4 linked regions of the Homo sapiens genome follow. The protein of the gene in region 1 interacts with the protein of each later gene in a pairwise test. Each region holds a gene or a part of one and is shown in the gene's direction. Other genes may lie near its edges. The genes, in order: GORAB, SEC22B, PAEP and TRAF3IP3.

Region 1 (5,200 bases):
AATAACAAAACAGTTCTATAATTACATTTCCAGTTCACTCTGTCTTACTGTGTTATGTATAATGCTCTTATTATTTTGTTCCAGAATGTCATCATACACTAATTTGGTATTACCCACCTGACCATAGGCTGGTAGTGCAGTTTGTGAAACTAATCAATATTTTAAACATTAAATCACTCTGTGGGAGAATATATATTCGTATTTCTGGCCAGAAGGACTTTAAATAAATAAACAAAATACAAAATCTTCAGTGATTTATCCAGGGTGATAGATCAATGGAAACCAAGGGACCTGTTCGCAAATGTTAATTTCAATTCAGTATTCATGAATCCAGACTGTAAATCTCTACTGATTGACTTTGACTGGCTGAAGGAGACCACAGACTTGCAGAAAAGGGAGGTTTGAGGCAGGGTCAGGGCAGGGTATTCATACACCTATAGAGAATGTCAGAACTCTTGTCTTGTTGCAAGAACATTACATGAACAGGGTATGTTATAAAGTATGGAGATAAGGGAACTAGGTATCCAGTAGAGTTCCTTTAGAACAATTCTTTTAACATAGAGGGTTATTGAAAGATAATGGGTGCTCTCATTTTTACATTTACTATATTTACAGTTAAAAAAGGAAATAGGATAAATTAACATTATGTAAATGAGTTTTCAAGTATAAATACCAGGTCCCTAAATTTTCCATAATCTTAATTTTAGATTCATGCTTACTAATATATTAACAGTACTTTTTGATTCTGGTGTTCTAAATGAGAAGTTCTGTTTCTTGAGCACCTACCAGGCACAAAACTGGAAGTTTGCCCCATTTATACTGTTTAATCTTCAAAACTCCTATGAGGTATTATTATCATCATTGTTTTACAGGTAGACCAAGACTCAGCTTAAGTAACTGCTCAGAGTCACTGTGCCGGAATTTTCAGTTATTGCATGCCTCTTCCCCAACCCCTTCCAGAGGAACCTGGCTGTGTTTTGGACTCAGGATGCTGACCTGGGGCATACCTAATTAGAATAGTGATGGGCTACCGACTCCAGTACATTTAATCCATAGGCTAAATAGTGGTTCACGGCATGGCCTGACACTAAGAGTTCTGTTTAAACTGAGATGAGCCGGGCAAACCTATGTTCTCCTCTGAGAGTGTGGAATTGGATCACTGAGAGATTGGGTGGAGTGAATTTGATACAGAGTGCAGGTGGTGGCCATATTGGCCTGTGAGTATGATAGGAAAGCTGAAATGAGAGAAAATGTGTCGCTTCTAAGCATTGAAAAGAATAGCCTTTGATTCTGATGACATGACTATGAAATTGCCTCGTGTATCCTACAATAAAACCCAATTTTTACCTGAGCTAGTTTGACTGGATATCTGTTCTTTGTATCCACAAGAAGCCTTGACCGAAATGGGTACACATGGTAAATGTCAGGAAGGTTTTGAACCCTGAGTTTTCTAAAATGAAAGCCATTTATTATTTTCACTGTATTTTCTTCCAAGACAGAGAATCCTAAATTAGGAGATATACCTGTTTCTTTTTTGCTATAACTCTTGTACTAGAAGCTACTTATTACACTAAGTTGATGTAGGCACTCATAACAGGTAAAGCAGCATGGCCTTCACAACTGCTAATGGTAATGAAATTAAAGAACTAGTTGGAAATCAATCTTTTTTCTTGCAAGAGAGGAAGGACCCTCTTGTTGCAAAAAGAAAAGCAACAAATTTTATAGAAAAGGCAAAAGACAATAAATTAAGACACGATAACTCTTCTTTTTGTACTGACCTAATGCAGAAGAAAAAAAGTGAGATTGCAAGGTGACTTCTCTAGTAGAATTGCCCTATTTCACATAAGACTTCACATAAGATTACCTGTCAACAGAGTTTATACATGTGTAACTATGTAAAATTTCCTAGTAAGAGTGTAAGAGGAGTAGTGGAGAGAATGAGAACAACTTAACCCAAGGATTCTCAACTGGGAGCATTTGTGTCCAATAAGGGACATTTGGCAATGCCTGGGGACATTTTTGGTTGTCATAAATTTTGGGAATTACTGGCAACTAATGGGTAGAAGCCAGTGATGCTGTTTAGCATCTTGCAGTGCAGGACAGCTTCTCACAACAAATAATTATATGGCCCAAATTGTCAGTAGCACCAAGGTTGAGAAATCCTGCATATAGCTATCCTGAGGTTTTCTACTTGATGTTTACTTCTTGCCCTCACCCAGTATCATTTTGCTGGGTGTGCTCTGTTCCATTTATATTCATCTCCCGACCACTGTCCGTATCTTTCTCCATCAGAATTTTTCTTTTTTTCTAATTTATTAATCAAGAGAACAATTTTCCACTTTCTCCATCTCTTGTCTGTCTTCTCATAAATTTAACCAGCTGTGTGCTGAAGCTAGCTTACCCTGGTTCATGTGGATTTTGTGTATCTCTTCCCAGTTCTGCATTCAGTAATATCACGTTGGTGGCTTGAAATTGGACAGGGTGGTAGTAATTATCCCATGGAAATGTAAACGCTACAAATCAGGGCTCCCCATCCTCCCACCCCAGAACTAGCATACCACTGAATTAACCTTTTAGCCTGCCTTCACTCAAAAACAGCTTTGTAAAGAAAACATTCGTGCAGAATAACATGTTTTCATTAGGTGAATTCAAGTAAGGATACTGTGAAAGTTTCAGCAGCCATAGCCTAGTCTGGCCAACATGTAGACAAGTGTTTGTAAAGTAGTAATATCCGTATCTTCATTATATATTTTTTCCCAATTTTGGAGTTGAGTTATTGTTTCTAGATCCTCTTTTGAATATCTTCTTCAATGGAAAACTGATGGACCTATCTTTATACACATCCTTACAGGAAGCGGTTTGACAGGGCTGAAGCAGAGTACATTGCAGCAAAGCTAGATATACAGCGCAAGACTGAGATAAAAGAGCAACTCACTGAACACCTTTGTACGATCATACAGCAAAATGAGCTCCGAAAGGCCAAGAAGTTGGAGGAGTTGATGCAACAACTAGATGTAGAAGCCGATGAAGAGACTTTGGAGCTTGAGGTGGAGGTCGAGAGATTGCTACACGAACAAGAAGTAGAATCAAGGAGACCAGTGGTTCGTTTAGAGAGGCCATTTCAGCCTGCGGAGGAGAGTGTGACATTAGAATTTGCTAAAGAGAACAGAAAGTGTCAAGAACAAGCTGTTTCCCCAAAGGTAGATGACCAGTGTGGAAATTCCAGTAGCATCCCCTTTCTTAGTCCAAACTGCCCAAATCAAGAAGGTAATGACATTTCAGCTGCTTTGGCCACATGAAGTTCTGGTATTCTTTTGAGCTAATATGGTATTGAGTAAAGTATACTTTTTGCAGTAGATCATGCCCTGACCTCCAATAAAAACCTCTTTAAAACAATGCTGATTTTTGAATTCATGATTAGTTTTAGTAAATTAATAGGTTTGGCCATTCTAAAATCCAAAATTATGATAACTGTATTTCTAGGGGTATGTTTCACCTTGATTTTGGCCCGGTTCTTTCAGTGTTCCGTTTACCCTTTTTACTGAAAGTAAGTGACTTAAAAGGATGGAAGAAAAACTACATGGTTGGAGTGTTTTTAGATCAGATAAATATAGAAAAGTAAAATGGAAAATGATACTCAATACCTAGTTAAACTCATTTCACTTCTCCTGGGAGACGTATTAAGACTGGAAGTCCTATTTTATTTAATCAGTATCAGTAAAAAGACAAAAATTACAGTGTGAACAAGAGAAAAACAGGAATAGAAGAAAAAAGTTGCAGGTTGAATTATCTATCTGGATATTACTAGAGTTGTAAAACACAACTTGGAAACTGGAATTTATGTGAAGAACCAAACAACTTAAACCAGCATCACTTTTGTCTTCAATTTGCCTTCCAGTGATTTTAGTTTACAACCTGCGTTTTGTTATTTGAAACACACACACTTATATATAAACACATGTAATTTTACTATTTTATTGTCTTTCCTTTAATCGATGAATTGATTAAATTTAGACAATTAAAACATTTCTAAAGTGAGACTGAAAATAATATAGAAAATCTCATTGCTACTTGTGATTATCAAAAAAAGTATGTATTTTCTTTCTAAAGTTATCTATAAATATGTTTTTGATATGTTGGACATGAATTACCCTGTCATGAAGCGTTTAAATTGTTAAAATGCTGATTTTCTTATTAGTTTGTTAATTGCCTGTTACTAGTACTTGACCAATACATTGTGCTATATGTAAATGTGTAAATAAATATTGTAATTTTCTCACAAAGTCTGTGAATATCACATTATGATTTATTTATCAGAAATTCCAAAAAGTAAAAATATTACCTTTGAGGACTTTTTTTTTTTAAAAAAAGAATTATTATCAGAGAACATAAGCACAAGTATAAGATTGTATCCATAAAAGTTTCTGAAAAACTTAGGGACATCCTGTTTTTAAATGGGTTTGTTTGAGGGTATTATCTTCTGGTAATATAGATGAGCTTTATATTTTTATATTATGTAATTTGAGTTGAAAGTATAACATTTTACTACTGACTTCTCTAAACAGAAGCATTTCTATAGATAGTTGTGCTTTTATTTATGAAATACATAAAAGCCAACAGTTTCATTGTCTAACACACTTCTTTTTCTAAGGAATAAACAAGTCTGATGTACTTATAGTGTCTTTCATTTACCTTAAAAAAATTTCAAACAGTTTAGTATGTATTAAGCATTGTGTGACAATAATGCATCTTGGATCTCCTTGTGGTACATACAGTTACTTACTTTTATTAAGCCTCTGTTAAGGAAAATTCATTATCAGTGAGGTTTTATAATATTGGTTAAATGCAGGCATGTGCAATCTTAATTCTCAGTGTAAACCCTTCAAAGATATATGAAGAAATGAGAACCGTGAAAAAAATATAAGTTAGATGAGACCTCAGAGATAATCTAATTTAATCTTTTATTTTTTTGAGATGGAGTCTCACTCTGCCACCCAGGTTGGAGTGCAGTGGCACGATCTCGGCTCACCGCAACTTCCACCTCCCAGGTTCAAGCAATTCTTCTGCCTCAGCCTCCCAAGTAACTGGGATTACAGGTGCCTGCCACCACACCTGGCTAATTTTTCTATTTTTAGTAGAGACGAGGCTTCACCATGTTGGCGAGGCTGGTCTCAAACTCCTGACCTCAGGTGATCCTCCT
Region 2 (7,031 bases), about 50 Mb from region 1:
GCATGACTGATTTTATTTAACTTAATGTCCTCCAGATTTATCCATGTTGCTGCTAATGATAGAAATTCATTCTTTTTTATGGCTGAATAGTATTCCATGGTGTGTGTGTGTGTGTGTGTGTGTGTGTGTGTGTAAAAAACACTTTTAAAATCCATTATTCTCTTGATGGACATTTCTCTTGATTATCTATCCATAGATATTATGAATGGTGCTGCCGTAAACATGGGGGTACAGATAAGTTTTTAACATAATGAGTTTTTTTCCTTTGGAGAAATACCCAGCAGTGGGATTGCTAGATTGTATGGTAGTTCTGTTTTTAGTTTTTTGAGAAACCTCCATACTGTTTTCTATAGTGTATAAAAGTTCTCTTTTCTCTTCATCCTCAACAGCATTTATTGACTTTTGTCTTTTTAATAGACATTTTAACTGGGGTGAAATAATATGTCGTTGTGGTTTTTATTTACATTTACCTGAAGATTAGTGATGTTGAGCATTTTTTCATATACTTGGCCATTCGCATGTCTTTTGAGAAATGTCAATTCTGTTCCTTGCCTACTTTTTAATTGAATTATTTTTGGTTTTGCTGTTGAGTTGTTTGAGTTCCTCGTATGTTCTGGATATTAGTTCCTCATCAGATGAATGAAACTAGATCCCTATCTCATCATATACAAAAATCAACTTAAAGTAGATTAAAGACTTAAGCATAAGACCCTAAACTATAAAACTACTAGAAGAAAACATAGGGGAAATGTTTCAGGACATGAACCTGGGCGAAGACTTTATGGCAAAGACTTCAAAGCACAGGCAACAGAAAAGAAAGTAGACAAATGGGACTGTATTAAACTAAAAGCTTCTGCACAGCAAAGGAAACAACACAGTGAAGAGACAACTTGCACAATGGGAGAAAATATTTGCAAACTCCTACTTAAACTAAAGAACCTCTGATTTTATCTGATATATACATTGGCCTTCTGAATATGTTTTGCTTGTTATATATACATATTCCATATATAAATATATATATTTGCATGTGTGTGTATGTATACTATGGCTAAAAAGAAGTTGGAAAACCACTTAGTAGCCTAACATTTTTCTAAGAATTTCTCAGATGTGTAATCATACAGCCCCTTCCAGAGTGCATGGGCGCTCATCATCACAAAAGAAAGTCAGTTCCATTGTTGATAAGTTTCCAGTTGATTACAGAGTTCTCCTGGACTGTAAATTAAGGAGTCTTATTAGTCTTGTACCCAGTAAACATTATGTCATTAACCTTACATTTCTATCCACAGAAATTTCCAGTTACAGTGTTTTCCTTTGTGGCTGGAAAGAGTTTAAATATGTGTATGCTAGTTTACCATATAGAATCAAAGGGTGGATGGAGTCACAACTCTGAATTTTTCAAGAAAAAGTCTTAAGTATTAAGCAAAAAACAACCCCATTTAAAAAATGGACAAAAGACATGAGCAGATATTTCTCAAAACATACTAGAGGCTAGCAAACTAATGAAAAAATGCACATCACTAATTATTGGAGAAATGCAAATCAAAACCACAATAAGATACCATCTCACAACAGTCACAGGGCTATTATTAAAAAGTCAAAAAACAACAGATGCTGATGAGGCTGTGGAGAAAAAGGAATTGCTTATACACTGTTCGTGGGAATGTAAATTCAGCCACTGTGGAAAGCAGTTTAGAGATTTTTCAAAGAACTTAAAACAGAACTACCATTAGACCCAGCAAACCCATTAATGGGTTTATATCCAAAAGGAAACAAATCTTTCTACCAAAAATCATGCACTTGCATATTCATTGCAGCACTATTCACAATAGCAAAGATATCAACCTAGGTACATGTTAGTGGTGGATTGGATAAAGAAAATGTAGTATATATACAGTATGGAATACTATGCAGTCATAAAAAGAAATGAAATCATGTCCTTTGCAGCAACATGGATGGAGCTGGAAGTCATTACCTAAGTGAATTAATGCAGGAACAGAAAACTAAATACTGTATATTCTCATTTATAAGTTTATAAGCTAAACATTGGGCACTCATGGACATAAATATACTGAGGACTTACTAGAAGAGGAGGGAAGGAGGGGGCAGGGGTTGAAAAACTATTAGGTAGTATGCTTAGTACTTGGGTGACGGGATTGTTTGTACCCCAAACCTCGGCATTATGCAATATACCCAGGTAACAAACCCGCACATATACATCCTCAAGCTAAAATAAAAGTTTAAAATGTTAGTTGAAGAATTGTGTAATGGGCTGGGTCCAGTGGCTTACACCTGTAATCTCAGCACTTTGGGAGACTGAATTGGGTGGATCGATTGAGGTCACGAGTTTCAGACCAGCCTGGCCAAAATGGTGAAACCCCATCTCTACTAAAAATACAAAAATTAGCTGGGTGTGGTGGTGGGTGTCTGTAATCCCAGCTATTTGTGAAGCTGAGGTGTGAGAATCACCTGAACCTGGGAGGTGGAGATTGCTGTAACTGAGATCATGCCACTGCATTCCAGCCTGGGTAATCTGGGTGATGGAAAGAGCCCTGTCTCCAAAAAAAAAAAAAAAAAAAAAAAAGAGAATCTAATGGATGAAAAATTATAATAAATATGTCTAAATACTCCTTTTAGAATATACGGCTAATAGGCTGGGTGCAGTGGCTCACGCCTGTAATCCCAGCACTTTGGGAGGCTGAGGCGGGCGGATCACGAGGTCAAGATATCAAGACCATCCTGGCCAACCAACGTGGTGAAACCCCGTCTCTACTAAAAATACAAAAATTAGCTGGGCATAGTGGCGCACGCCTGTAGTCCCAGCTGCTCGGGAGGCTGAGGCAGGAGAATGGCTTGAACCCGGGAGGCGGAGGTTGCAGTGAGCCGAGATAATGCCACTGCACTCCAGCCCAGGGGACAGAGCGAGACTCCGTCTCAAAAAAAAAAAGAAAAAAAAAAGAATATACATCTAATAATGGGAAGATGTTTGCTTTCTGATTCCAAGGATTTGCGGTTTTAAATTGACTCTCGTTTAGCCAGCCTCAAAGTATTTAGGCTAGATTTTTTAAAAAGTTTGCATGGTACAGAGATTCTGCTTTAAACTGTTGTCAGTGCTATTACTTTACAGATAACTTTGTCTTGCTTTTTATGTCTCACCAGCTACATTATTGAGCAGGGGGTGTGTTATTTGGTTTTATGTGAAGCTGCCTTCCCTAAGAAGTTGGCTTTTGCCTACCTAGAAGATTTGCACTCAGAATTTGATGAACAGCATGGAAAGAAGGTGCCCACTGTGTCCCGACCCTATTCCTTTATTGAATTTGGTAAGTTTTTGCCCCTCACTTCTCTCTATCAAGGGAGCAAACAATATGGAGAAGCTATTTGTTACACTGATATAATATTTATACATTTTTTCTGATGTTTACTTGCTGAAGTTTTAGCTTCTGCATCCTTTTCCATTCCACTTCTTTTTGTCTTTTTGAGTGACTAAGGCTTTGTTCTGAAAAGTAATTTTCTCTAGTCTTTTGATCTTTCCCCCATAGAAATTGTTGCCTTTTGCCCTTTCTGTTATTTGGTTTGATTCTTCTTTAGAGTCACATGTGACAGGAACTGTGCCTAAAGATCTACTTGATTGGCATATAATGGCTGAGTTCTTCTTTACCCCAGTCCACAGACTCACACTCACAATAAGGCTCATTTTATGGAGATCAGAATTGGGAAATCAGAAAGAATGATGTTTTGTTTCTTTTAGTAGAATAAGATCCTCTAATTAAAAAAACAAAACATAACAAAGAAATAGAAGATACCTGGTACTCATGGTATTGGGGTATAATATTTACTACATTCAGGAATAGTGAGCATAGGTGTCTGTATTTGTGCAAGAATTATAGAAAGACTAATTACTAATCAGACCTGGTAAAGTATCTGATGGTAAGGGATCAAAGGAAATGTCCTAAGTACAGTAAGTACAGGGAGTGAGAACAAGTAGGATCAGGCTATATCGCTGAAATTTTTAGTTAAAAGAGAAATTGGTTTTACTGGCTTAGAATTTTTGAAGTGTTTCAAGTTTGCTAGATAAATGGGTCATCTTGCTTTGGAAAAACACTCTAGTGTTTCATAACTATATACTCTCCAAGTGCTGCTTTATATAATGTCCAGTTTTTCAAATTTTATTTTTATAGACAGTAATACTCCCATAAACCTCCCTCAAAAATAAGACAAATGTATCAGGGTCATACAGGAAACAGATGGCACACCCAAATTAGCTTAAGGGATTATATACAAAGATATGACTAGGCTGTAGGAGAATTACAAGGTACAGTAACCTCTGACCAGTAGCATACTGGTTGTTACCATCCCTAGGCCTGAATGTATAAGGGGGAGGAGCAGTTTCTGAAACTGAAAAGGAGAAAATTTCTAGAGAAGGCCAACTTGAGAGGAGCGTAACTTTTGGTAGAGGGATACTTCCAGAAGAAGGTTATTTCCTTCTCTGAAAGAAGCCAGGGGAATAAATACCCGGACATCACTCACTGTCTGTTCTCCTTCTTCCCTACTGTTGGGGCTTCTTCATTGCCTGAACCTAACTGGCACAGAGCAAGGAGTCTTGAGGCGCTTCATCCAAGTCAGCTTCCCAGTGCAGAAAGCAAGGTGCAGGAGGGCAGAGAGGAGATCTAAAGAGGCAAATGAAAGGGGTACAGCACACTTAAATTAAGATTTTTGCCAAAAGTTGAAAATATCTTTAATAATAAGTCATTCTTCCTATAGTTTTGAGAAATACTGATATGAGCAAAAGATGGATGAGACTTCAGTTTTTATTTATTTATTTATTTACTTAGAGACAGAGTCTCGCTCTATTGCCCAGGCTGGGGTGCAGTGGCATGATTTTGGCTAACTGCAACCTCTGCCTCCTAGGTTCAAGTGATTCTTGTGCCTCAGCCTCCTGAATAGCTGGGACTAGAGGTGCACGCTGCCATGACCAGCTAGCTAATTTCGGTATTTTTGGTAGAGATGGGAGTTTTGCCTTGTTGGCCAGGCTGGTCTCGAATTCCTGGCCTCAAGTGATCCACCCATCTTGGCCTCCCAAAATGCTGGGATTTATACGTGTGAGACACAGTGCCTGGCCGAGACTTCAGTTCAGTTTTGTATTGGTATTTTGGAAAACTCCCTATTACATATTTGCTTTACCTGAGGTTTAAGAATGGAATGAAACTGGGAATGTATATTAGAGAAAAGGTAAAGTTTCTCAGCTTTTTAATGATCATGAACCCTTTTGCCATGTTAGGCTGTAATAATGCTAGAGTGTTACCAGCATCCTTTTAAGGAATGTGTAGAGGTAAGTAACACTTAGCCTAAGGGTCCTCAGAATACTGTTTGAAAATTTCTGTTTTCAGGAAAGGCTTACTATAGTGGGTCTTAATTTCTCTAAGGATTCTGATAGCAGCCTTAGATAGCAAATACTTCTAATTCAAAGGTATTCAAAGGACATTTCTCCTGAATGGTCGTCTAATTATACCTTTACATCTTACAAATGAAATAATCAAAGCCTAGATTTTGATATTCAACCAAGAGTTTGGTTAACCATGGACAGTGGCAAATCCAGGAATAAACTCAGAACTGTTTTGGTTTTTTTTTTTTTGTTTTTGAGACAGAGTCTTGCTCTGTCACCCAGGCTAAAGTGTGGTGGTGGTGTGATCTCGGCTCACTGCAACCTCTGCCTCCCAAGTTCAAGTGATTCTCCTGGCTCAGCCTCCTGAGTAGCTGGGATTATAGGCGTGTGCCGCCACGCCTGGCTAACTTTTTATATTTTTAGTAGAGACGGGGTTTCACTGTGTTAGCCAGGATGGTCTCGATTTCCTGACCTCATGATTCACCTGCCTTGGCCTCCCAAAGTGCTGGGATTACAGGTGTGAGCCACCGCGCCTGGCCAACTCAGAACTTTTAATCTCCTACCTCAGTACTTTGATGGCCATGAAAGAAATGGTCAGTTTTCTTCATCATTCTAGATACTTTCATTCAGAAAACCAAGAAGCTCTACATTGACAGTCGTGCTCGAAGAAATCTAGGCTCCATCAACACTGAATTGCAAGATGTGCAGAGGATCATGGTGGCCAATATTGAAGAAGTGTTACAACGAGGAGAAGCACTCTCAGGTATCTAAAAGCAATGAGTCTTATGAAGAAATGGTTCTCATTCCATAGACAAGGATAGCTTATTTTGCAGTGCCTTTTATGCTATTAGATTCTACCTAGAACTGTTAAGAATTTATCTCCCAGAAGTACATTACATTACAATGCTTCCAATATATTTTTTTTCCTAGCATGATTAGTTTTTGTTGAGTTGGAACAGTGTAAAGGACTCATCCATATTAGAAGCAATGATTATTTCTAAGATATTCACAAAATTAATTAAATTATATAACTTGTATAAATTAAGGGAAATGAATGAGAGAAAACTCAATGATGTATTGCAGTGGTTTTTTGAGTAGCCTCTTTGGGAGACTTTACTGCTGCCAGATCAATCTTTATAAAATGCCATTTTCATCAAGGCATTCCTCTGAAAAACTTTTAAATCTGGGACTACAAGATAAGATCCAGTCTGACTTATTTTTCCGTCAGTCAGCCATTGTTATTGAGAGCTTGTTATTTGTAAGGCATTGTGCTCTACATATGGAAAATAAGGAAGATGCAAATGTCTGTCATTCTCTAGTTCACAAACATTCTTCTGTAGCCACACCAGCTTCTTTACTATCCTTAGTGGTCTATTCTGCCTTATGCTGGACCTGTTCTGTAAGACCTCCATAAGAACTGTCTCTTTAAAGAACCTTTCTCTGATCCTTATAGCCTGTATCACATTAATCTCTTCTGTACTTTAAACTCCTAAAGCACTTAATAACATAATGGTTTTAGCACATATTACATGTATGTGTGTTTACCTAATTTACCTTAAATATATTTATTAAATACCTCTTACCATATTAAATATATATTTAATATATATTAAATATATTTCCATATAACATAAGTATATATTTCATA
Region 3 (7,582 bases), on another chromosome or scaffold:
GAGTCTCCCATAAGGCAGATGTACTCGTCTGTCTAACCATTCATTCACGGATGGAGTTTTCCAGTTATTAGCTATTACAGGCAAAGCTGCTGTGGACAATTGTGTACCGGGTTTTCTGTGTCCATTTATCCCATTTCTCGGGATAAATGCCCAGGAGTAAAACTGCCAGGCTGTATAGTAAGCATATGCTTATTATTTTTGTGTTGTTTTGTTGTTTTTTTACACGGAGTCTTGCTCTGTCACCCAGGCTGGAGTGCAGTGGCGCAATCTCGGCTCACTGAAGCCTCCACCTCCCAGGTTCAAGCGATTCTCCTGCCTCAGCCTCCTGAGTAGCTGGGACTACAGGTGCACACCACCACACTCAGCTAATTTTTTGTATTTTTAGTAGAGATGGGGTTTTACCATGTTGGCCAGACTGGTCTCGAACTCCTGACCTCAGGTGATCCATCCCCCTCTGGCCTCCCAAAGTTGGGATTACAGGCGTGAGCCACCACTCCTGGACCAGCATATGCTTAGTTTTAAAAGAAACTTCCAGCTGGGCGTGGTGGCTCACACCTGTAATCTCAGCACTTTAGGAGGCCAAGGTGGGAGGATCTCTTGAGCCCAGGAGTTCAAGACCAGTCTGGCCAACATAGTGAGACCCAGTCTCTATTATTTAAGCTTAAAATTTTTTAAATAAAAAACAAAAGCAACTTCCAATTTCCAGCATGGCTGAACCATTTTAGAGCCACTCAAAGTATGCATTTCTCAACATTTTGAGAGATTCAGTTTGTCTCCATCCCCACTAATATTTGGTTTGGTCCCTACTTTTCATTGTAGCTGTCCTAATAGGTCCCTACTTTTCATTGTAGCTGTCCTAATAGGTCCCTACTTTTCATTGTAGCTGTCCTAATAGGTCCCTACTTTTCATTGTAGCTGTCCTAATAGCTGGGCTGTGATAGCTCACTGTGGCCTTAATTGGTGCTCCTTGATAGTCAATGACATTGAGCATCTTTTTAGGTGCTTATTTGCCACCCATAGATCTTCTCTGGGGAGATGTTCCTTCATGGTTTTTGCCCATTTTCTAGGTGGATTTTATTTTTGCTGTTGAATTTTCAAAGTTCTCTATATCTTCCAGACACCAGTCCTTTGTTGGATATGAAACTTTCAAATGTTTTCTCCAAGTTTGTAGCTTGCCTCTTCATCCTCTTTTTTTTTTTCTCTCTCTCTCTCTCTTTGTTTTTTGAGACGGAGTCTCACTCTGTCACCCAGGCTGGAGTGCAGTGGCGTGATCTTGGCTCACTACAACCTCTGCCTCCTGGGTTCAAGTGACTCTCCTGCCTCAGCCTCCTGAGTAGCTGGGATTACAGGCATGTGCCACCAGGCCTGGCTAATTTTGTATTTTTAGTAGAGATGGTGTTTCACCATGTTGGCCATAGGTGGTCTCGAACTCCTGACCTCAGGTGATCCGCCCACCTCGGACTCCCAGAGTGCTGGGATTACAGGTGTGACCCATCACGCCCGGCCCCGTTCATCCTCTTAACAAGGTCTTTCTGGAGCAAGAGTTTCAGATTTTGATGCAGTATGATTTACCAGTTTTTTTCTTTTGTGGATCTTGCATTTGGTGTCAAGTCTAAGAATTCTTTACCTAGCCCTACGTCCTGAAGATTTTCTCTCACGCTTTCTTCTAAAAGTTGTATAGTTTTATGTTTTACTTTTAAACTATGAGTTAATGCATATGTCAGGTGTGAGTTTTAGATGGAGGTTCTTCGTTTGCATGGGATCGATTGCACGTGATGAATTGCTCCAGCACCATTTGTTGCAAAGACTGTCCTTCTTTTAGAGGGACTCCCGCTTGCCAGGCCTCTGGTTTAATGAAACATGACCAGAGTGACTCCATCTTAACGTGAATAACTAGACACTCACAAGGCACCTATAAGGTTATATAACGAGGCTATGCTGCTCGATACTGACTACGACAATTTCCTGTTTCTCTGCCTACAGGACACCACCACCCCCATCCAGAGCATGATGTGCCAGTACCTGGGTGGGTCTCACAGCACATGAGCTCAACGTGGGTGAGAGGCAGCAGCTACTTCCATGGCTGGGAACCCTGGGGAGCTGACAACTGGCTTCCTGTCCACCTCAGTGCCTGTGGGCTGGTTTTTTCTTTCTTGGTTTTTTTTTTTATTTGTTTGTTTGCTTTGTTTTTTTTGAGACAGGGTCTCATTCTGTCACTCAGGCTGGAGTGCAGTGGCGTGATCTCGGCTCACTGCAACCTCCACCTCCCAGATTCAAGCGATTCTCGTGCCTCAGCTTCCCGAGTAGCTGGGATTACAGGCGCGAGCTTATGGTCTGAAAATACCCGCATACTAAGCTGACCACCAATTATAACTGCAGAACATTTATGCCCATACGAGGCATCTCCCACCAAGCCTGGAGAATGTACCGATGACCTGGGAGTGCAGGGGGTTATCTTTGCTCACAAATAACGTCAACGAGTAGGCTGAGGCTGAAGGGCAAATGGTCATTGATCACACTAGGAGCCCCTATCTTTAGCGAGTGCATCTGCATGATCCAGGTTTCACTGTAGCTCATTACAGCTTCTTACAAACAGAGGCACTCACAGAGGACGGGCGTTCCTCCTGCTCGCTGAGGTTGCCCGGCTCTGGCACAGAGTCATTTCCCATAAACTTGCTTTCACTGTGCTCTGTGAGTCACCTTGAATTCTTTCCCGTGTGAGATCTAAGAACCCATTCTTGGGGTCTGGACTGGGACCCTCTTTTCCGACAACACTTCCCCCACGCACTGTTCTTGCAGCTTTGTTAAAGGTCTGTTGTTGTTGTGTGTGAGTCCATGTTTGGACTCTCTATTTCCCATTGATCTATGTGTCCATTTCTCTGCCAATACCACAATCTCTTGGTGACTATTGATAATAGTGCTTGTAAACTTGGGTAGACTAACTCTTTATACTTTATTCTTCTTCAAAATGGCTTTAGCAATTGTAGCTCCTTTGCCTTGACATGTAAATTTTAGAAAAAAAAATTTCTCTATATATCTACATATGGTGGGGTGTGGTGGCTCACACCTATAATTCCAGCACTTTGGGAGGCCGAGGTGAGCAGATCACTTGAGGTCAGCAGTTCGAGACCAGCTTGGCCAAAATAGTGAAAACCCCTCTCTACTAAAAATACAAACATTAGCCAGGTGTGGTGGTGGGCGCCTATAATCCCAGCTACTCTGGAGGCTGAAGCAGCAGGATTACTTGAACCTGGGATGCAGAGGTTGCAGTGAGTCAAGATCGTACCACTGCACTCCACCCTGGGCAACAGAGCAAGACTTGGCCTCAAAAAAATGTATATATGTATATATGTGTGTGTGTGTGTCACACACATGTCTATAGCTACCTACAAAATATCTTGCTGAGAATTTGATAGGAATTGCATTAAATCTCTAGGTTGAGTTGAGGAGAGCTAACACCTTTGCTGTGTTGAAGCTTCCAGCCCATGAACACATTGTGCCTGTCCTTTACCTTAGGTCTTTGATTTCCCTTCCTTGGGTTCAGAGTTTAAGTCCTGTCCATATTTGGTGAGATTTTTGCCTACATGCTGTGTGTGTGATTACAAATCCTGAATTTCCAGTTTCGGGTTCTGTCTACTCCTTGACACTGTGTGGGAACACGGTGGATTTTTGTGCGATTGACCTTGCTGACCTCACTCGGTTCTAGGAGGGGTTTTGTAGAGTTCTTGCAATTTTGTACCTGGGCAATGATGTTATATGCGAATAGAGACAGGTATACCTCCCCCTTCCCAATCTGCCTGCCTTTAGTTACCATTTCTTGCCTAGCTGCTCTGGCCGGAATGACCTGCTCTGATGGATGGGGGAGTGGGAGTGGACACCCGTGTCTTGCCTCAGGACTCAAGTGCTCTCCAGGGAGTGAGATGCGGGCTCGATTGTAAGTTACAAAGTGATGCTTCCCTGTGGGAAAAAGTACATCCAATATAGACTGTAGGACAAAGTCTGAAAGTCCACTGCCTCCCATTTCCACCCAGTCTTGCCTGTGAGTCAGAGAGAAACAGTGCTAACAGGCAGTGTGCACCTGTCCAGAGGCTGGCTGTTTGAGGGACACAGGTGTGCACACCTGGGGATGTCTGAGTGGAAGGTACAGGTCAGGATTATGACCGTGCAGTCAGTCACCCACTGGCATGATGTCTGTGGCATCCTGGGGCAGCCATGGGGCTCTCAGGCCCTCTGCCTGCCCCACAGGCCATACCCCTGCCCTGGACACAGCTGTCCTCAGTGCTGGCCTCTGACCCAACATTGTCCAGGAGCCCCAACCCAGAAGGTGCTCCCGCCGCTGCCAGCCTGGACCCGACCCAGGCCCCTCCCGCCTGAGGCCCTGCCAAGAACTGCCCAGCCCGGACACAGAGGAGGTTCCCGCGTGGACGCAGGGAAGAGCCTCCCATTGCCCCAGTGGAGGAAGCTGCCCAGGGGCCAAGGATGAGTCACAGGTTCGAGGAATCACATGGCGAGGCTGTGGGCGGGGATCTTGTCTGCCCTCCTCCTACATAAGGCCCCCTGAGCCCACACTGCCTCAGCATCCCTCTGGCTCCAGAGCTCAGAGCCACCCACAGCCGCAGCCATGCTGTGCCTCCTGCTCACCCTGGGCGTGGCCCTGGTCTGTGGTGTCCCGGCCATGGACATCCCCCAGACCAAGCAGGACCTGGAGCTCCCAAAGGTTTGAGGCTGGGGGAGCGGGCACTTTACTGTGGGAGGCCTGGGGCGGGTGGGAGCTGCGGGCAGGCAGGAAGCCCAGGATCTCAGAAACCTACAGGAAGCACAGAATGGACGCCATGACGTCAGGAAGCCCTCAGCCCTGCTCTCCATCTTTAGGGTGGCCTCTCTGGTTTCCCAGCATCCTAGGTGACTCATTATTTGGACTTTGGAACACTCCTGAGTTAGCACACACTGGTCATTTTAAGTACAGGAAATTTCATAGCCCAGGATCTGGTAGATAGCAGACAACCATCCAATGCTCACTGTACCCATCCCAGTTAGACTCAGCCCCGTCTGCACCGGGTGCAACGAGAGCCATGGTGGGGTGGGACCGCCGTGCAGCCCAAGGCCCCCTCAGTTGGCAGGGACCTGGCACTCCATGGCCATGGCGACCAACAACATCTCCCTCATGGCGACACTGAAGGCCCCTCTGAGGGTCCACATCACCTCACTGTTGCCCACCCCCGAGGACAACCTGGAGATCGTTCTGCACAGATGGTGGGTTTCTCATCATTGAGACGGGCTGGGCGGGGGCTCAGTCTCCCCCCTCAGGGGTCCAGGACTGGGTGGGTTGGGCGGAGCTGGACTTAGCCCCAGGCATTTTCTGACAGCCAGGGGCTTCACTGTGGCCCTTCCATGAGGGTGGGGTGGAAAACCAGGGCTCCAGACGTTCCCTGTCCCCTTGGATCCCCTGCCCCAGGCTCTGGGCCAACAGCCAACCACACAGTGCAGCCCCAGGTCAGACTGAGGAGAAGGTCTGGGCGGCTGCGGGCTGCGGTGCTCCTTGGACCCGGGGAAGTTCCCGTGGTGACCTGATTTTAGGAGTGACAGTGAAGGCAACTCCAATTCAAGTGGCCACTCATCCTATTGTCACCACCTTTCAGGGAGAACAACAGCTGTGTTGAGAAGAAGGTCCTTGGAGAGAAGACTGAGAATCCAAAGAAGTTCAAGATCAACTGTGAGTGTCCCCAGGCCCCAAGGGCTGGCTCAGTGCTGGCATGCTAGCCACGCTCTCCCAGAGGCGGCTCTGCTGGGGCATGAGGGAGTGGGGCCTGGCCTGTCCCCACTCTCTCTGCTTCAGGGAGTCAGAGTGTTTACTCCGGTCAACCTGATGCTGACCCCAGAGGCATCTTTTACCTGGAGGGCAGGGGAAGCACTAATTCTTGGCATGACATGACTGGATGTGGGTCTGCACTGTGCCCAGGCACAGGGGACAGGTGCTTTGTTGCACTGTTCACTCTGGCCTCACAAAAGGCCAGGGAGGCTGCAGGCGAGCAGGTGGGCAGGTGGGCAGGTGGGTAGGTGGGTAGGTGGATATGTATACAGGTGGGCAGGAGGGTAGGTGAACAGGTGGGTAGGTGGGCAGGTGGCTAGGTGAGTAAGTGGTTAGGTGAACAGGTGGGCAGGTGAGCAGGTGGTTAGGTGAACAGGTGGGCAGGTGGGTAGGTGGGTAGGTATACAGGTGGACAGGTGGGTAGGTGGACAGGTGGGCAGGTGAGTAGGTGAACAGGTGGGTGGGTGAACAGGTGGCCAGGTGAACAAGTTGGTAGGTGGGCAGGTGGGTAGGTGAACAGGTGGGCAGGTGGGCAGGTGGGCAGGTGGGCAGGTGGGCAAGTGGCTGCTGTTCCCGTGGGCCTGGCTGCCTCCTGCGCACTCTGGGGCTGCAGCTCTGGTCTTAGGCTGAGCTCCCAGGCCTCTCTGGGGGAAGAGAGAGGGGCTTACAGCATGTCCTTGGTCCACTGAATTCTTCCTAACAATTTGCAACATTTTGTTCTATTTTGTTAATTATTATTTTTTTAAAAAGACAGAGGTGGTCAGGGTCTGGGGCCTCTTATCCCCTCATGGGCACATTTTCCCAGCAAATACAGTTTGCTTCTCATGCTTGGGACTTGCCTCAGGCCTTTCTGACCCTGCTTGCCCTCCCCAGAATCGAGCCACTCTCCAAGGTCCATTTCTTCTCCCTCTTCCCGCCCCTGTGCCCTGTTCCTGTGCCATCTCCCGCCATCCTCACCCGTACGTGACTTCTCAGTTGGAGTCTCTCCAGGTCACAGCCTCCCTGCCTGCCGTGTCTGCCTCTCCACGGCACACCTGGCCTCTCCCCCTCAGCCGGGGCTCCATGGCCCTCCACATTGCCTCTCCTCCCCTTTCCTCCCTGGCTTCCCTGATCATGGTCCACAGCAGGGGCCACGTCCCATGGTGTCAGTGGATGAGGAAGCCACTTAGTGTGGTGGGATGTCCACACACCTGCACAGGACTCTGCTGAGACGGAGGCTTCATCTTCCTTTTGGTTCTTCTCTTCTTTCCCCAGATACGGTGGCGAACGAGGCCACGCTGCTCGATACTGACTACGACAATTTCCTGTTTCTCTGCCTACAGGACACCACCACCCCCATCCAGAGCATGATGTGCCAGTACCTGGGTGGGTCTCACAGCACATGAGCTCAACGTGGGTGAGAGGCAGCAGCTACGTCCGTGGCTGGGAACCCTGGGGAGCTGACAACTGGCTTCCTGTCCACCTCGGTGCCTGTGGGCTGACTTTTTTTTTCTTGGTTTTTTTTATTTGTTTGTTGTTTGCTTTGTTTTTTTGAGAAAGGGTCTCATTCTGTCACTCAGGCTGGAGTGTAGTGACGTGATCTCGGCTCACTGCAACTTCTGCCTCCCAGATTCAAGCGATTCTCGTGCCTCAGCCTCCAGAGTAGCTGGGATTACAGGCGCACGCCACCATGCCCAGCTAATTTTTGTATTTTTTGGTAGAGACGGGGTTTCACCATGTTGGCCAGGCTGGTCTCCAACTCCTGGATCAAGTGATCCACCCGCCTTGGCCTCC
Region 4 (7,031 bases), about 39 Mb from region 1:
GCAGCCTTATTGAGGTACAATTCATGTGCTTGTGGGTTTGGATGGCACAATCTGTGTCTGGGCTAAGGAAAGCAGACTTGGCACCAACATTAACCCTGACAGGTTGGTAATCCTAAAGAAATGGAACCCTCAGCCCCAACAGTATTGGAGCCAGATGCTCTGAAATGGGTTTTGGCCAGCACTAGGCATGTGGCAGATGCTCAGTCAATATTGATTGGACTTGATCTGCACCTGAGAGACACAGCCCAGTCCTGAGCTTGGAGTGGGGGGCCCATGGACCATTGTCAGGACAGCAGGTTGGAGGAATTAGGGTAGGGTTTCCCTCCTAAACCATGCCAGGTCCAGGCTCACAAGCTCGTTGCTAAAAGTCAAGAAGAGAGCAGTGGGTGCTGGTCACAGGACTGGTCACCACCTGAGGGGGTGTGGTTAGCCCTCCAGATCCTTGAGAAGTGTCACTCAACTATGTTAGTGACAGCTTGGACCAAGAGACCAGTAAAGATACTGACTTTCCTTTTCAACTGGGGGATAAGAGGGCAGATTGGCTCAACTTAGCTGCTTCTCTAGAAGTCTGGAAAATGAACACACACCTGCCATCCAAGAGGCTATAAGCTCATTATGATTTTAATCAATTATTTCTCATGTTCCCCTGACTCAGAGGCATGGTAAGATGTTCAGTCAAGGAGTAAGTGGCAGCCATAGAGACCCTTTTACTTTACAAAGGGGAAACATCGGCTAGAGAAAAGCAGGAATTCACTTTTATAAGACTGTATTAGTTCATTAGAGACTGAGCCCAAGAGTCCTGACTCCCACTTTGATACCACCATGTCCTCAGTTTTCAACCCACATGGATGGAACTCTGTGCTATTTCTGCCCCCTGGTCTAGGGAGATAGTCATTTTTCTGCCCATCTTCTGACCCCTCCCCTTCTCCTCCCTCTTGGCATTTGGCAGATCCAGGCATCTATTCCAGGAACTGGAAGCCAAGCGCAACAGGTGCTTGGAGGTCATCATGATCAGCCCAGACCCCAGGCCCTCCCCTGGCTTGGCCCGGTGGGCTGAGAGCTATGAGGCCAAGTGTGAGCGCAGGCAAGAGATCCGTGAAAGCCGCCGCTGCCGTCCCAATGTGACCACTTGCCGCCAGGTGGGGAAGACGCTGAGGATCCAACAGAGAGAGCAGCTCCAGAGAGCTCGACTGCAGCAGTTCTTCAGGAGGAGGAACCTGGAGCTAGAGGAGAAGGGCAAAGCGCAGCATCCCCAGGCCAGGGAGCAAGGGCCCTCCAGGCGGCCAGGACAGGTGACTGTCCTCAAGGAACCCTTGTCTTGTGCCAGAAGGATTTCTTCTCCCAGAGAGCAGGTGGGCCGTGTCAAGGGACATACTGCTGTGTGCTCTGGGACCCTCTCTGGACAAGGAGGGTGGGTGGGCTCAAGGTCACTAAAAAGTGACCTAAATCAAGTCCTTCTTCCTCAGTCATATAGTAAAGTTGCCAAGAGCTACTTATAGTAAAGTTGCCAACAGCTACTTATTCAGAGATTTTTGCTGTTGTGTTTTCGTTTGTTTAGCTCTTTTTGTTCTGCACTTGACTTATAAGAGAGAAAAAATAATTTTTAAAAACAATTTCAGGCTGGGCATGTTGGCTTATACCTGTAATCCCAGTACTTTGGGAGGCCAAGGCAGGAGGATCACTTGAGGCCAGGAGTTCGAGACCAGCCTTTTGATAGAGACAAGACCCTGTCTCTATCAAAAACTTTACAAACTAACCAGGCATGGTGGTGCACACCTGTAGTCCTAACTAATCAGGAGGCAAAGATGGGAGGATTACTTGAACCCAGGAGTTTGAAGCTGCAATAAGCTATGATCACACCATTGCACTCCAGCCTGGGCAAGAGAGGGAGACCCTATCTCTAAAAAACTTAAAAATAAAATAAATAAAAATAATTCCAAAGCTAATGCCTATATCAGTTCAAATTTAGGCAATATACACATGTCTTCTACAGCTATCTTACAGCATTCATTCATCCATCAGTCATCAAATATTTACTGAAAGCTTATTATATGCCAAGCACACAGGCCAGTCTTCTTGACACACACACAGACATATCTGTCCTCTTTTCTTCTGCAAGGCTGTTGTGCCCACTCTTCTCACTTCCTCTTGTGTCATTCCAATTCTATTAAATCACTTGACTATAGCCTCATCTGGTCCAGGAAGCTTTCCCTGGCTTCTCCAGGCCACCTCTGCTGTCTATGGGCCTTGTGAGGTTAAAATCTTCTAAGATTGTGTAACCCTTAGAGGGCCCATTAGTCTGGCCTGGAAAGGAACAATGTTGGCAAAAACCAGGGTATGCTGAGATGACCTTGGCCAGCAAACCATCTTCCTACTGAAGTTGTGAGCATGTTGACAGCAGGGATGTGTCCACTATGTTCCATGGTAATGCTTGGCATTGTTCCCTACCCAGAGTGGGTACTCTATCAGGGCTTCTTAACTAGTGGATCTGTTATGCTCAATAGGAGATGCTGTTCAGAGAAATGATCCTAGAGCCCAGTTGCAAAAGAAAAGGAACTGTATACTAAAGCAAAAAACCTTCCCACAACTCCCCACTTTACCTAGTCTTCACACAAAACCTCAATGATTTTCTAGCTGTTACTAAGAGAAAGGAGGCTTTCCTTTGAATATGGAAGGAACCTTATGGATTATCTATTCCAAACTCCTCACTACACAGACAGAAGACTGAGACCTAGAAAAGATGGGATCTGAACCCAGATCCCCTCACTCCCCACTCAGACCAGTTCTCTTTCCACATCACCATGCTGGCTATGTAAGTGGCCATAACCAAACAAGGTAGAGAGAGAAAAAAAAACAACAACTAGAGATTCTAGAGAGAAAACCTGGAGAAAAGTACAGCTCCACATATGCCTGGCCTGAGGAGGACCATTTCTGCCAGTCAGGACAAGGATATCAGGAGCAGGAGAAGCCTGTGTGGCTCTGAAAGCTTGAGTGGGCTACTTTGGTTTTGTGGATCTGAAACATTGTCTTCGTCCTGTAATGAATTACCACAGACTGGGTGGCTTAAATAACAGAAATTTATTTCTTACAATTCTGGAGTCTGGAGTTCTAAACCCATGGATTCTGCAGATCTGGTGTCTGATGAGAGCACTCTTCCCACTATGCAGATGGCCTTCTTCTCATTGTGTCCTCACAAGGCAGAGAGCAGAGAGAGAAAGCAAGCTCTCTCGTGTCTCTTCTAATAATGGCACTAATCCCATTCATGAGGGCTACCTGCTCTGACCTAATTATTTCTCAAAGTCTCCACCTCCTAATACTATCACATTGGGAGATAGGATTTCAACACACAGATTTGGGCGGGGGGACAATAAACACTCAGTCCATAACAAACATGATGGTTAGTTCTTCCTTCCGAAATCATCAGGAGAGTCTTTCAAGAGGCTCCAGGCAGTGGTTTTCAGCATTCCCCACTTGCCTTCCAGGTGACAGGCACCAGCTCTGAAGTCTTTCCAGCCCAGCATCCTCCTCCCTCAGGCATCTGCAGGGATCTGTCTGACCACCTCTCCTCACAGGCTGGGGGCCTTCCTCCACAGGACACTCCCATCAAGAAGCCACCCAAACACCACCGTGGTAAGAGCAGAGCCTCCCTCACTCCACAGGGCCTGCAGAGAATCCTGAGACAACTGTCCCAGCTCACTGGCAATGGAGAGTCCCTGTCCCTCCCCACTTCCCTCACTTCCTCCCTGTAAGTTCTAAATCAACTTATCCTCCATCTCTCAGGTACTCAGACAAAGGCAGAAGGACCAACAATTAAGAACGATGCCAGTCAGCAAACCAAGTGAGTTCCTGACCCTAACCCTCTCACATCCCATCCATTCCTCTCTAGAGAGAACACAATGAATTTCCATGTCCGCCTTAATTAAGAAAGAGGAAGCCCTTCCCCACCCTACTGGCTCTTCAGAAGGAATCAACCCACTGCCTCCTGACTTGATTCTTTGGTCCATTATCATTATTTTTAATTTCTTCTCTTTCCAGTTACGGAGTTGCAGTTCTGGATAAGGTAAGCACATATTCACTTTGAAGGGGTCAAATCAGAAAGTATTAAGCTCTGACATTCTGGAATTCCATGATAAACTTGGCTGGGATGGAGGGGCATCTTCTTCCTGGATGGCAAGGGGGTACTGAGCATAGACATGGGGACTAAAGGGACCCTGTCAGAGCCAAAGCAGAAGAGGTTTGCTCTACACAAGCCAGCCCAGGCTCTGGTTCTATATCCCAGGGTTTCAGGGGACTTACAGACATTTTGAATACCCTTGTTCTTTCTCTCCAGGAAATCATCCAGCTTTCTGATTACCTCAAAGTAAGTGGCATGTGACCCCTCCCCTCAGTTCCTCCATCCACTTACCCCCGATCCTCCAGGTTAATCTTACCCTCTTGCACTTTGTGCCCGCACCCCCAGGAGGCCCTACAAAGGGAGCTGGTCCTAAAACAGAAAATGGTGATTCTCCAAGACCTACTGTCCACTCTGATTCAGGCCTCTGACAGCTCTTGGAAGGTAAGGGAATGAAATTCTTTTTGAACAAAGCTTGGGCTTCTATGTGTTCCCATCTCATTTTTCTTTCCACATCATCACAGTAAGAGAAGGGGTTTTCTCACTACTGAAAAGTAAGCTGGGAAGAGGCAGGAGATGAGGGGGATGGTGCTCAGACCTAGAAGTCAAACAGGTCACAATAAATATATGGGTCATCACCTGAGGGTCATGGTGCTACATATCCAAGGAAGACCCAGAAACAAAAGTGGCAAGAATTCCCATTTTTTAATTTGTTGGAAGGAATGAAGGAAGATCCCAATATAGTTTACATTACTAAATATGCTAAATGTCAAATATTTTCATATGGGATTCCCACTGATATTTATCGAAACCAGCATGCCATGTACCCACTCAGTCCGAATAAAAATATCAGAGTGGGAAGGGACCTTAGAGACAATCTGGCCTAATACTCTCATTTTGCCCATGAGGAAACTGAGCTTCATAGGGGTCAAGTAACTTGCGAAAAGTCACACAGCTAGGTAGTGGCAGATCTGCAACTAAAATTCAGGCCTTTGATTTTAGTCCATTCAATGTACAATATTCATAGGTTATGTCCTCTATACAGAGCACTGGACTAGCACTAGAAATAATGAGATTATTTAGATAGGGTTCTTGCTTTGAGAAGGCTCACGGTTTTGTAAGAAAGACACATGACTAAACAATACAAAAACATGAAAAATAAAAGAAATGTTTTCAAGATATAGGAAAATACAAGAAGGAATGAGTGACTCCAGAGAAGAAAAGAGCCAGGGGAATACTTATATAAGCATTTGCCAGGAAAATATGGAAGAAGGAATAGTATTTTAGTTGGGGTACAGGCAAAGGTCTAAAGGCAAGGCCGGGGGTGGTGGCTCACACCTGTAATCCCAGCACTTTGGGAGCCCGAGGCGGGTGGATCACCTGAGGTCAGGAGTTCAAGACCAGCCTGGCCAACATGGCGAAACCCCGTCTCTACTAAAAATACAAAAATATTAGCTGGGTGTGGTTGCACATGCCTGTAATCCCAGCTACTCAGGAGGCTGAGGCAGGAGAATCGCTTGAACCAAGAAGGCAGAGGTTGCAGTAAGCTGAGATCACCTCATTGCACTCCAGCCTGGACAAAAGAGCGAGACTCCATCTCAAAAAAAAAAAAAAAAAATCTAAAGGCATGACACAGTCTAGTAAAATGGTTCTCCAATTTTTTTATTTCAGGATTCCTTTATACTTTTTAAATTATTGAAAATATATAAGAAATGTTTATATTTACCATACTAGAAATTAAAACAGTTGGCCAGGTGCCGTGCATCATGTCTGTAAATCCCAGCACTTTGGAAGGCTGATGCAGGAAGATCACCTGAGGTCAGGAATTAGAGACCAGCCCGGCCAACATGGCAAAACCCTGTCTCTACTAAAAATACAAAAATTAGCCAGGCGTGGTGGTGCACACCTGTAATCTCAGCTACTCCGGAGGCTGGGCCACGAGAATCGCTTGAGCCCAGGAAGTGGAGGTTGCAGTGAGCGATGATAGTGCCACTACACTCCAGCCTAGATGACAGAGCAGGACTCTGAGAGACAGGAGAGAGAGAGAGAGAGAGAGAGAGAGAGAGAGAGGGAGAGAGAGAGAGAGGAAGGAAGGAAGGAAGGAAGGAAGGAAGGAAGGAAGGAAGGAAGGAAGGAAGGAAGGAAGAAATTAAGATAGAAATTGAGAAAGAATTATTAATTTTAAAATAATGAGAGTAAAATTTTTCATGCTAACCTGAATTACATGTTTTAAGAAAAACAGTCTGGGTGCGGTGGTTCACACCTGTAATCCCAGACTTTGGGAGGCCAAGGCAGGTGGATCACTTGAGCTCAGGAGTTCAAGACCAGCCTGGGCAACATGGCAAAACCTCGTCTCTACTAAAAATACAAAAAATTAGCCAGGTACATTGGCATGCACCTGTAGTCTTAGGAACTCAGGAGGCTAAGGCAGGAGAATCTCTTACGTCCCAGGGGTGGAGGTTGCAGTGAGCCAAGACTGCACCACTGCATTCCAGCCTGGGCGATGGGAGTGAAACTCTGTCTCAAAAAAGAAAAAGAAAAAGAACCATATTTTCAAAAACAAAATTAGTGACAGGAGTATCATTGCTTTACACTTTTGCAAATATTTTTAATGTCTGGCTGAAAAAAAAGACAGCTAGCTTCTCAATTTGCTTCTGTATTCAATCTATTGGTTTAAACATAAAGAAAAATTCAGTTTCACACAAATATGTCATTAGAAAAAGTAAGACTTTGCTGATCCCTTAAAAGGGTCTTGGGGATTCCCAAGTTTCCTCAGAATCCCCATGTTGAAACCTGTAAATTAGTATGTACTATAAATTCATGTATTAATATGAGCTACAAGCAGCTTGACACCACCAAAGCATACCGCACCGGGTGGAAAGAGATGGAGCACACAACCTCACCGGCCTGTGTGACATCT

What was found.
Region 2: the proteins of GORAB (region 1) and SEC22B interact in binary tests that used the Homo sapiens proteins (3 or more experiments, as listed by UniProt).
Region 3: the proteins of GORAB (region 1) and PAEP interact in binary tests that used the Homo sapiens proteins (3 or more experiments, as listed by UniProt).
Region 4: the proteins of GORAB (region 1) and TRAF3IP3 interact in binary tests that used the Homo sapiens proteins (3 or more experiments, as listed by UniProt).

The regions. Positions count from the first base shown.
Region 1 is NC_000001.11:170,549,164-170,554,363, forward strand, and holds the end of GORAB (RAB6-interacting golgin), read left to right. Parts: intron 1-2,851; coding exon 2,852-3,299; 3' UTR 3,300-4,671; downstream 4,672-5,200.
Region 2 is NC_000001.11:120,159,499-120,166,529, reverse strand, and holds part of SEC22B (vesicle-trafficking protein SEC22b), read left to right. Parts: intron 1-3,159; coding exon 3,160-3,320; intron 3,321-5,999; coding exon 6,000-6,146; intron 6,147-7,031. UniProt on the Homo sapiens protein: SNARE involved in targeting and fusion of ER-derived transport vesicles with the Golgi complex as well as Golgi-derived retrograde transport vesicles with the ER.
Region 3 is NC_000009.12:135,557,181-135,564,762, forward strand, and holds the start of PAEP (glycodelin isoform 1 precursor), read left to right. Parts: upstream 1-4,575; 5' UTR 4,576-4,621; coding exon 4,622-4,717; intron 4,718-5,113; coding exon 5,114-5,253; intron 5,254-5,639; coding exon 5,640-5,713; intron 5,714-7,063; coding exon 7,064-7,174; intron 7,175-7,582. UniProt on the Homo sapiens protein: Glycoprotein that regulates critical steps during fertilization and also has immunomonomodulatory effects. Four glycoforms, namely glycodelin-S, -A, -F and -C have been identified in reproductive tissues that differ in glycosylation and biological activity.
Region 4 is NC_000001.11:209,759,033-209,766,063, forward strand, and holds part of TRAF3IP3 (TRAF3-interacting JNK-activating modulator), read left to right. Parts: intron 1-1; 5' UTR 2-102; intron 103-949; 5' UTR 950-1,007; coding exon 1,008-1,352; intron 1,353-3,482; coding exon 3,483-3,630; intron 3,631-3,780; coding exon 3,781-3,838; intron 3,839-4,035; coding exon 4,036-4,060; intron 4,061-4,330; coding exon 4,331-4,360; intron 4,361-4,459; coding exon 4,460-4,555; intron 4,556-7,031. UniProt on the Homo sapiens protein: Adapter protein that plays essential roles in both innate and adaptive immunity. Plays a crucial role in the regulation of thymocyte development.